2 separate regions of the Homo sapiens genome follow, and region 2 is linked to region 1. A link means that fine-mapping ties the variant in region 1 to the plasma level of a protein whose gene starts in the linked region. Region 1 holds a variant in brackets. A gene starts in the other region. All regions are shown on their forward strands. Region 1 has its middle 13 kb from the start of ZNF385B. Region 2 holds the start of C1orf56 (chromosome 1 open reading frame 56).

What was found. PIP is the chance, under the fine-mapping model, that this variant and not a neighbour inherited with it causes the effect. Protein levels are from antibody-based Olink assays in UK Biobank. Linkage for the fine-mapping came from a reference panel and not from the study's own genotypes, which makes the PIPs less certain.
Region 2: C1orf56 starts here. The variant in region 1 is fine-mapped to the plasma level of the C1orf56 protein (UK Biobank, PIP above 0.99).

Annotation. Positions count from the first base shown.
Region 1 is chr2:179,872,105-179,876,631 of GRCh38, forward strand. No RefSeq gene overlaps it. Among named protein-coding and RNA genes, the nearest start is that of ZNF385B, 13 kb to the left of the region's middle. The variant C/A (reference allele first, on the strand shown) is at 2,619.
Region 2 is chr1:151,046,293-151,050,447 of GRCh38, forward strand. C1orf56 (chromosome 1 open reading frame 56) reads left to right here and starts at 1,459. Exons shown (of 2, transcript NM_017860.5): 1 at 1,459-2,560; 2 at 4,146-4,155. The coding sequence starts at 1,556. BNIPL (BCL2 interacting protein like) reads left to right here. Exons shown (of 10, transcript NM_138278.4): 10 at 359-1,428. The coding sequence ends at 395. RefSeq lists enhancers at 1,787-1,836, 2,117-2,356.

The DNA.
Region 1 (4,527 bases):
ACTTGTCTGAGATCTCTGTTAGGTATTTATTTGTGTGAACTGCTGCCTTTTTCTTTCTTTATACTTCCTTGGATAAATCCACCTTCATTTTGTTCTACTTTTGAAGAGTTTATGATTAAACTCAGCAAAATCTTTATGTTTGCAATGTTAGTCCATGAAAGAAACTTTCACTTGCTAGGTACCCAACACGTGCACAACACTGTGCTAAGCTATGGGATAAAAAATCCAGGCAGAAGGAAGACCATGAAAACAGAATGTAACACAAGAGTTCTTATATTTAGGAAAAATTGAAATGTAACAGGGTAGACAGGATGTCTAAAAAATCAGTTCAAAAGAATATGTAAAGCCAGGCATGGTGGCGAATGCTTGTAGTCCCAGCTACTCAGGAGGCTGAGGCAGGAGGATGGCTTGAGCCAAGGAGTTCAAGGCCAGCCTATAGAAGAGCAAGAAGGAGGAGGAGGAGAAGGAGGAGGAGGAAGAGGAGAAGGAGGAGGAGGAGGAGGGGGAGGAGGGGGAGGAGGAGGGAGAGGAGGGGGAGGAGGAGGAGAGATAGGAGGAGGAGGAGGAAGAGGAAGAGGAGAACATAGCAACCAAATTTAAATTGATTCCCTATGAACTCTGAGGGAATAGCAGTGATGGGTTGAATTCATGAAGGATGGTTCTTGGGAATGATAAGAGAAGTATATGGAATGTCAGTGGTCCAGCTGGTGGTGGCAGAAGTAGTCTAGCTAAAGGAAATGGCACAGATGTAGAAGTAAGCAACTTGTTCAGACAATATCCAATTTGTTTTTGGCTGGATAAGGGAATCAGAGTCAAAAATAAAAGAGCAGGGGAAAGTAGGTGAGAATAGAAGACAAGACAGCTGTTTATCATTTCTAATTTGTGGCAATTCTTTATGTGGTTTAATTCTGATCCTTGTCATTTAGGTGTGCTGCAAACATTTTCCCCAAGTATCTGGCCTGTCTTTTTTTTCTTTAACATGACTTGATGAGCACAAGTTCTTAATTTTAGAGTAGTCAAATTTATTAATCTTCCCAAAATTAGTACTTTTGTATCATGTTTAAGAAATCTGGCCAGGCATGGTGGCTCACGCCTGTAATCCCAGCACTTTGGGAGGTTGAGGAGGTCAGGAGATTCAGGCAGATCATGAGGTCAGGAGTTCAAGACCAGCCTGGCCAATATGGTGAAAATCCATCTCTACTAAAAATACAAAAATTAGCCGGGCGTGGTGGCACGCGCCTATAGTCCCAGCTACTCGGGAGGCTGAAGAAGGAGAATCGCTTGAACCCTGGCAGAGGTTGCAGTGAGTCAAGATTGTGCCACTGCACTCCAGCCTGGGCGACAGAGCAAGACTCCATCTCAAAAACAAAACAAAACAAATTTTCTGTACCTAAGTTTAGAAAGATATTCTCCTGTATTCTTCTAAAGATTTTTAAGTTTAGCTTTCGACATTTAAGTTCTTAATCCATCTGTAGTCAATGTTGATGATCCATATTTTTTCCTAGCTCAACTTATTTAATGGTCTCTCCTTTCCCCAGTGATCTACAATATCCCCTCTGACATAAAGAAAAAGGTACACAAATTTACCTCAGGTCCTCTGTTCTGTTCCACTGGTCAATTTATAAAGTAGTGTCCCTGACCATTGACACTTTTAAATACCACCTTAATTATAATAGCTTTATAGTATGTTGTTATGTTTGGTACAATATTAAATCTATAGATCAATTTGGATACGATAGGTAGTTAGGTAGACAGATGGATGAGTCTTGAATGGACGTATGATGATAGTATTCATAAACCCATGACTATAATTAATTCTATATACTTGAAGTCCAAAGATTACAGTGGATGGGGAGTAAAGGGGATTTACTGAGTGCACCTTTGGTAAGGTAAGCATTTTTTTTAAAGCCAGGTCATATTTTAGATTATATAATGATATTGAGGGAAACAAAGTAAACACAAGAAATCCGCAACAGCCAAATCAAAATTAGACACATTGACAATTCATTTGAATAAACTGCAATTCTGAGAAAAACCTATTACTTGCCTTGTAGTCCACATTACTTGAGAGCATGGACTATATATGCCCAGCTTCTAAAGCAATTTCTGGCAAACAGTAACCACTAAATATATTCGAGGCACGAATGAACAATGAAATGGTAGAAAGTATCATGGACAGAGTGCATATTTTTCATTTGAATATTTACTTCCGTTTTATAGACAAAAATTCTTGGCCAGGCGCAGTGGCTCATGCCTGTAATCCCAGCACTTTGGGAGGCCAAGGCAGGCGGATCAACTGAGGTCAGGAGTTCAAGACCAGCCTGCCCAGCATGGTGAAACCCCGTCTCTACCAAAAATACAAAAATTAGCCAGGCGTGCTGGTGCACTCCTATAATCCCAGCTGCTAGGGAGGCTGAGGCAGGAGAATTGCTTGAACCTAGAAGGCGGAGGTTGCAGTGAGCCGAAATCGCAACACTGCACTCCAGCCTGGGTGACAGAGCGAGACTCCATCTCAAAAAAAAAAAAAAAAATCCTTTAGTTAAGAAAAAAAAAAGTCTGCATTTACAAGTACTTGCAGTTAATCAAATTATACTTCTTCTGCATTGCCATGCAATTGC[C/A]TTAACGGTCAATGACATTTATCAACAGTCCAGTGGAAGGGACACACTGTGCTAGATCCTGGGAGGAGCTATGAAAGAAGATACATGAGTCAAGCAGGAATGGCCCCTGTTGTTCTAATTTTCACTCAAGCTGAGAATACAAAATGAGCAAAAGAGAAAATGTCAGAACACTTAGAGTAATCAGTGTAAATGAAGCCAGCACAAACGGCATGTATGGGTACTGAGAGAATGTGGGCAAGGCACCAGGTGCCCCTTTGGAAGGTGAGAGGCAGTGGAGCTCCTGTGAGAGCTTTCTCATGCTGTTGAAGGAGTCATCGTGTCTTCTTATTTTTTTTTTCAAACTGTGGTCACAGCCCATTGGAGAGTCATGATTAACACTTATTTAAATAGATAATATCATATTATCTGTATGAATCTATATAGATAAATATATGTGTATTTAATTTTACCTGTAATGTATAGACATCTTTATTACACATTTAATTATTACCTATTGTTACAGAAATAGAAGACAGTTTCACAGAGTAGAAAATAGAGTGCCTGCATGGCAAATACTAAAAATAAGAAAGAAGTGCCAGTTTATTGAACTTTAATTTTGGTTACTTTTACGGTTTCATATTTGTAGGTATGTGCTGGGCTGTAATAGAAACAGTATTTCTTACTGTCAGTTGGCCCAACATGTTTGAAAGCCCCAGTAAATTGAGAAACTAAAGGATCTGCATGGCCAGCCGAAGAGGAGGGCGGAACAAGAAACTCCCCTCCTTTCTGTCCTGTACACATACAGTGATAACTCCTCAAGGCCAGGCAGTAGTCACTCTCTGATAAGTATATATTTTGTTGCCTTGTCTTTTCAGATTTGCAGTCAGATGAGAATCTTTGTTTAAAACAACTTGCCCCATTTCTTATAGCTATTTGCAAAGCTGGGAGTTTCTGCTTGTGGCTTCCCAAATATTTATAGCTCCTCCATCAGTTTAGAAGTTGTTGTCTCATCTTTTTAAGTCTGAATTCTACCTACTCAAGTTAAAGCAACCTTCTTCAGCAACAATGTGGGGATCCTCTTATCCCTGCCTGTTCTGTCATTTCATCTAGCAGAGCAGTGTTATGATGAGCCCTGTAGGCACAAGTGTATCTCATCCTGTCATTTCTGAGGTGTGTATGGTTTATTTTAACTATACTATGTAGAAGGAGCTTACATTCATTAAATGTAGTGCATAAGCAATTTTGCTATCCTTTAAGAGTAAATCTGTAATTATTCTGTAACAACTGTCTTGCATCATTTCTTTTCTAGATATGCTTTGTAAGTTTTCAAAATTGAGAAAACATTTGAACTACTAAAGTTGAACTTGTCAGCACTTTTCCTCCAGTGCTCATTTGTCAAAAGTTATTGAAACAATGAAAAATAAATCTTTGCAGAAACAGGAGAAATGGATTCTATGTATGAAGCCCAGTTGTGTTGGATTTTGTTTCAGTATCTTTTTTTTCACTGCCAGCAAAACAAGACAATTCAACAACCTATGTAAAGTCAGTTTTACAGATTAATCCTGAATATTTCAAATGAGCACATAGTTAGCAGGTATCTGCCAAATGAGGCACAACCTTGAAGACAATCAAAGAGTTGGAGCACAGAACCAACAAAAAGCAGAAGGTCAATAGGTTAGAGGCCTAGTGCCTGATTGTTACCATTGTTGGATATCTCTAACTTCAGTGGGAATTCTCTTTACCACCAGTCTTCATGTGTGCCCATGTGAGCAGGAAATTGCTCCTGTAGGTGGCGAGCAGAATATGAAGCTCCAATTATGTCTATTCTCTGTTATAGGGGAGAATGGCAGAAGCAAATAGTACATGGGATAATGGCTGTTAAGGAAAGCTAATATACTTGAGTAACTAGAAGGTGCTTTGCAATTTTATT
Region 2 (4,155 bases), not on the chromosome of region 1:
GTATATGGGGAAACTGCACACACCCAGAGAAGAAATGAAGGACACTACTGCATCCAACAAGAATAAATGAAAAAAAAAAAAAACCTATACATATAAGTGCAGAGGCAATAAGGAATAAAGGAATAATCACAGTGCAGAGGAGATTCAGACTGGCCCTAGAAATTAGGAAGAGATGTGTTGGCAGTGAACAGATGATATCCAGTGGGGGAGAGGGTGTTAGGGAGCAAAAGTGCTAAATGATGACTCAACCCAATCATCTAGCTCTTCCAATTCACCTGGCTTCTCTCCCCAAACCAGAAAATAAAACCCAAGTCCTACCCCCTGAACCACTTCTCTCCTCCCCCTCTCCCTCTCCTAGGCTGGACCGGGATCTCCATGGCTCAGGAGGGACATAGCACAGGACTGGATAAAAGGCCTTAGAACCAGTTAGTGATCTGCCTACACCTGAATCCCTGAAACATCTGAACTGTTTTGTAAATCATCTTATCCCCAACCTCAGTACCACCGGATCTTCACTTCTCAGTGGGATTTTGTCCTTTGCATGACCCTACTTTCAGCAGGGCTTTGAGGCTGGGAAACTGATCTGCTGGGTGACTTTCATTCCAGTTGCTGGGACGGAAGGCTGAATGTAGGGTCATTTTGTATGGGATATGCAGAGCTCTGGGTTTTTTTGTTTTTTGTTTTTTGAGACGGAGTCTCGCTCTGTCGCCAGGCTGGAGTGCAGTGGTGCGATCTCGGCTCACTGCAACCTCCGCCTCCCGGTTCAAGCCATTCTTCTGCCTCAGCCTCAGCGAGTAGCTGAGACTACCGGCGCACGCCACCACGCCCAGCTAATTGTTTTGTATTTTTAGTAGAGACGGGGTTTCACCATGTTGGCCAGGATGGTCTCGATCTCTTGACCTCGTGATCTGCCCGCCTCGGCCTCCCAAAGTGCCGAGATTACAGGTGTGAGCCACCGCGCTCGGCCAGAGCTCTGGGTTTTAATCCTACTTTAGCTGTAGAACCTTGGGCAAATAACTTCATCTTTTTGGGTCCTAATTTTCCTCCTGTCTAACTGGAGGGACTGTGATCCTTCCACCTTGGATGGAAGAGGCTTACCTGACAGCCAGCCTGCCTGCTGGGAGCCAGGAGAGTCAGCTCATTAAATCTTGAAGAACCGCTGTATGCCCTTTTTCCTTCTAAGTCATGTCTGCTGCCTGTGAGCCTGGGAAGGAGTGCTTTCAAAACCTGTATTTTTGCCCTCTTTAGTAAATTTAGAACTGTAGAGGCTAATAAACTGCGATGAGACATTTAAGCTCTGCTCCAAAGAAGTGAACGACTCTTTCACCACCCCTTGCATCCCAAACCTTCGGTTCTGGCAGAGTTCTTGCCGCAGAGGTTCCTTAGGAGCACCCCGCGCGGCCCGCGCGAGCGCGCCTGCGCGTCGAACCCCACCCCCTTCCCCGCGGGCCTCGGTTCAAACGACCCGGTGGGTCTACAGCGGAAGGGAGGGAGCGAAGGTAGGAGGCAGGGCTTGCCTCACTGGCCACCCTCCCAACCCCAAGAGCCCAGCCCCATGGTCCCCGCCGCCGGCGCGCTGCTGTGGGTCCTGCTGCTGAATCTGGGTCCCCGGGCGGCGGGGGCCCAAGGCCTGACCCAGACTCCGACCGAAATGCAGCGGGTCAGTTTACGCTTTGGGGGCCCCATGACCCGCAGCTACCGGAGCACCGCCCGGACTGGTCTTCCCCGGAAGACAAGGATAATCCTAGAGGACGAGAATGATGCCATGGCCGACGCCGACCGCCTGGCTGGACCAGCGGCTGCCGAGCTCTTGGCCGCCACGGTGTCCACCGGCTTTAGCCGGTCGTCCGCCATTAACGAGGAGGATGGGTCTTCAGAAGAGGGGGTTGTGATTAATGCCGGAAAGGATAGCACCAGCAGAGAGCTTCCCAGTGCGACTCCCAATACAGCGGGGAGTTCCAGCACGAGGTTTATAGCCAATAGTCAGGAGCCTGAAATCAGGCTGACTTCAAGCCTGCCGCGCTCCCCCGGGAGGTCTACTGAGGACCTGCCAGGCTCGCAGGCCACCCTGAGCCAGTGGTCCACACCTGGGTCTACCCCGAGCCGGTGGCCGTCACCCTCACCCACAGCCATGCCATCTCCTGAGGATCTGCGGCTGGTGCTGATGCCCTGGGGCCCGTGGCACTGCCACTGCAAGTCGGGCACCATGAGCCGGAGCCGGTCTGGGAAGCTGCACGGCCTTTCCGGGCGCCTTCGAGTTGGGGCGCTGAGCCAGCTCCGCACGGAGCACAAGCCTTGCACCTATCAACAATGTCCCTGCAACCGACTTCGGGAAGAGTGCCCCCTGGACACAAGTCTCTGTACTGACACCAACTGTGCCTCTCAGAGCACCACCAGTACCAGGACCACCACTACCCCCTTCCCCACCATCCACCTCAGAAGCAGTCCCAGCCTGCCACCCGCCAGCCCCTGCCCAGCCCTGGCTTTTTGGAAACGGGTCAGGATTGGCCTGGAGGATATTTGGAATAGCCTCTCTTCAGTGTTCACAGAGATGCAACCAGTAAGTGTTTGGTGATGAGCCAGGGTCTTTGTTGACGGATCTGAAAAGTCCTGGTATCTAAAACCCAGTTGCTAAGCCAGCCAGTGTTGCTTACATGAACTGTTACTGACTTACCTGGTTATTGATTCATAACATGCATTGGTTATTCACATTGTTAGCCATTGATTCCACCTATTATTTATTGAGCAACTACTGGTTGGTCATTAGGTAAAATGTCTTACTGCTCATTAGGTGATTATTGACCAAATAGTTAAGATTGGAAATATTTTTTTTTTTCAAGACAAGAGTTTCACTCTTATTGCCGAGGCTGGAGTGCAATGGCGTGATCCTGGCTCACTGCAACCTCTGCCTCCCAGGTTCAAACAATTCTCCTGCCTCAGCCTCTTGAGTAGCTGGGATTACAGGCACCCACCACCATGCCCGGCTAATTTTTTTTTTTTTTTTAGAAGAGACAGCATTTTACCATGTTGGCCAGGCTGGTCTAGAACTCCTGACCTCAAGTGATCCACCCGCCTCGGCCTCCCAAAGTGCTGGGATTATAGGCATGAGCCACCATGCCTGGTCTTGGAAATTCTCTGTTTTTTTCACAGACAAGATCTCGCTATGTTGCCCAGGCTGGTCTTAAACTCCTGGGCTCAAGCAATTCTCCTGCCTCAGCCTTCCAAAGTGCTGGGATTACAGGCATGAGCTACTGTGCCCCTGACCATAAGACTTTTTTTTCGAGACAGGGTCTCTCATCACTCAGGCTGGAGTGTGGTGGCGCAGTCACAACTCACTGCACCCTCCATCTTCTGGGCTCAAGCAATCCTCCCACCTTAGCCTGCTGAATAGCTGGGACTACAGACGTGCACCACCATGCCTGGCTAACAAGATCTCGCTATGTTGCCCAGGCTGGTCTCCAACTCCTGAGCTCAAGGATCTGCCCACCTTGGCCTTCCAGAATTCTGGGATTACAGACATGAGCCACTGTGCCCGGCCCATAAAGTCTTTTTGATGCACAGATAATTAACAGATATGAAGGATCTTAATCAATTAATAGTTTTGACCTAATACAGCTTAACAGCAACAAGTGCCAAAATTTGAGGTCTTACTATGTGCACTTTACCTGAATCGATCCTCACATCCTATGAGGTATTATTATCCCTGCTTTTCAGATGAAGAAACTGAGGTTTACAAAGCTAGTAAGTGGCAGAGCCACGAGATTTAAACCAGGTTTGACACCAGTGCCCACTCTCTTCACCACTACCATTTGGGAGTACTGTCCTTCCAGGACAAGGAAGGATAGTCCTCTGCTTTTCCCAGAATTAGCAAAGGTTCTGATTGACTTGATAAGGTAGTCTCAATTGATACGGATGATAGGACTTTGAGGAGGGAAAGGTAATAAAGCTTACACTTGGTCATTTTGCTTGTTTCTGTTTTTCTCCTTGTGTGTCCAATACCATTATTGCATACAAAAATAAGTAAGGGGTGGGCAGTAGGGTTGAGGGAATATGGGTTTGTGGGAGGGGGAGATGAAGCAAGGAAGGGAAAAGAATATAGATGTGGTTGTAATTTCCCTTTTTCTCTATTTTTTTTTCTTACGCAGATAGACAGAA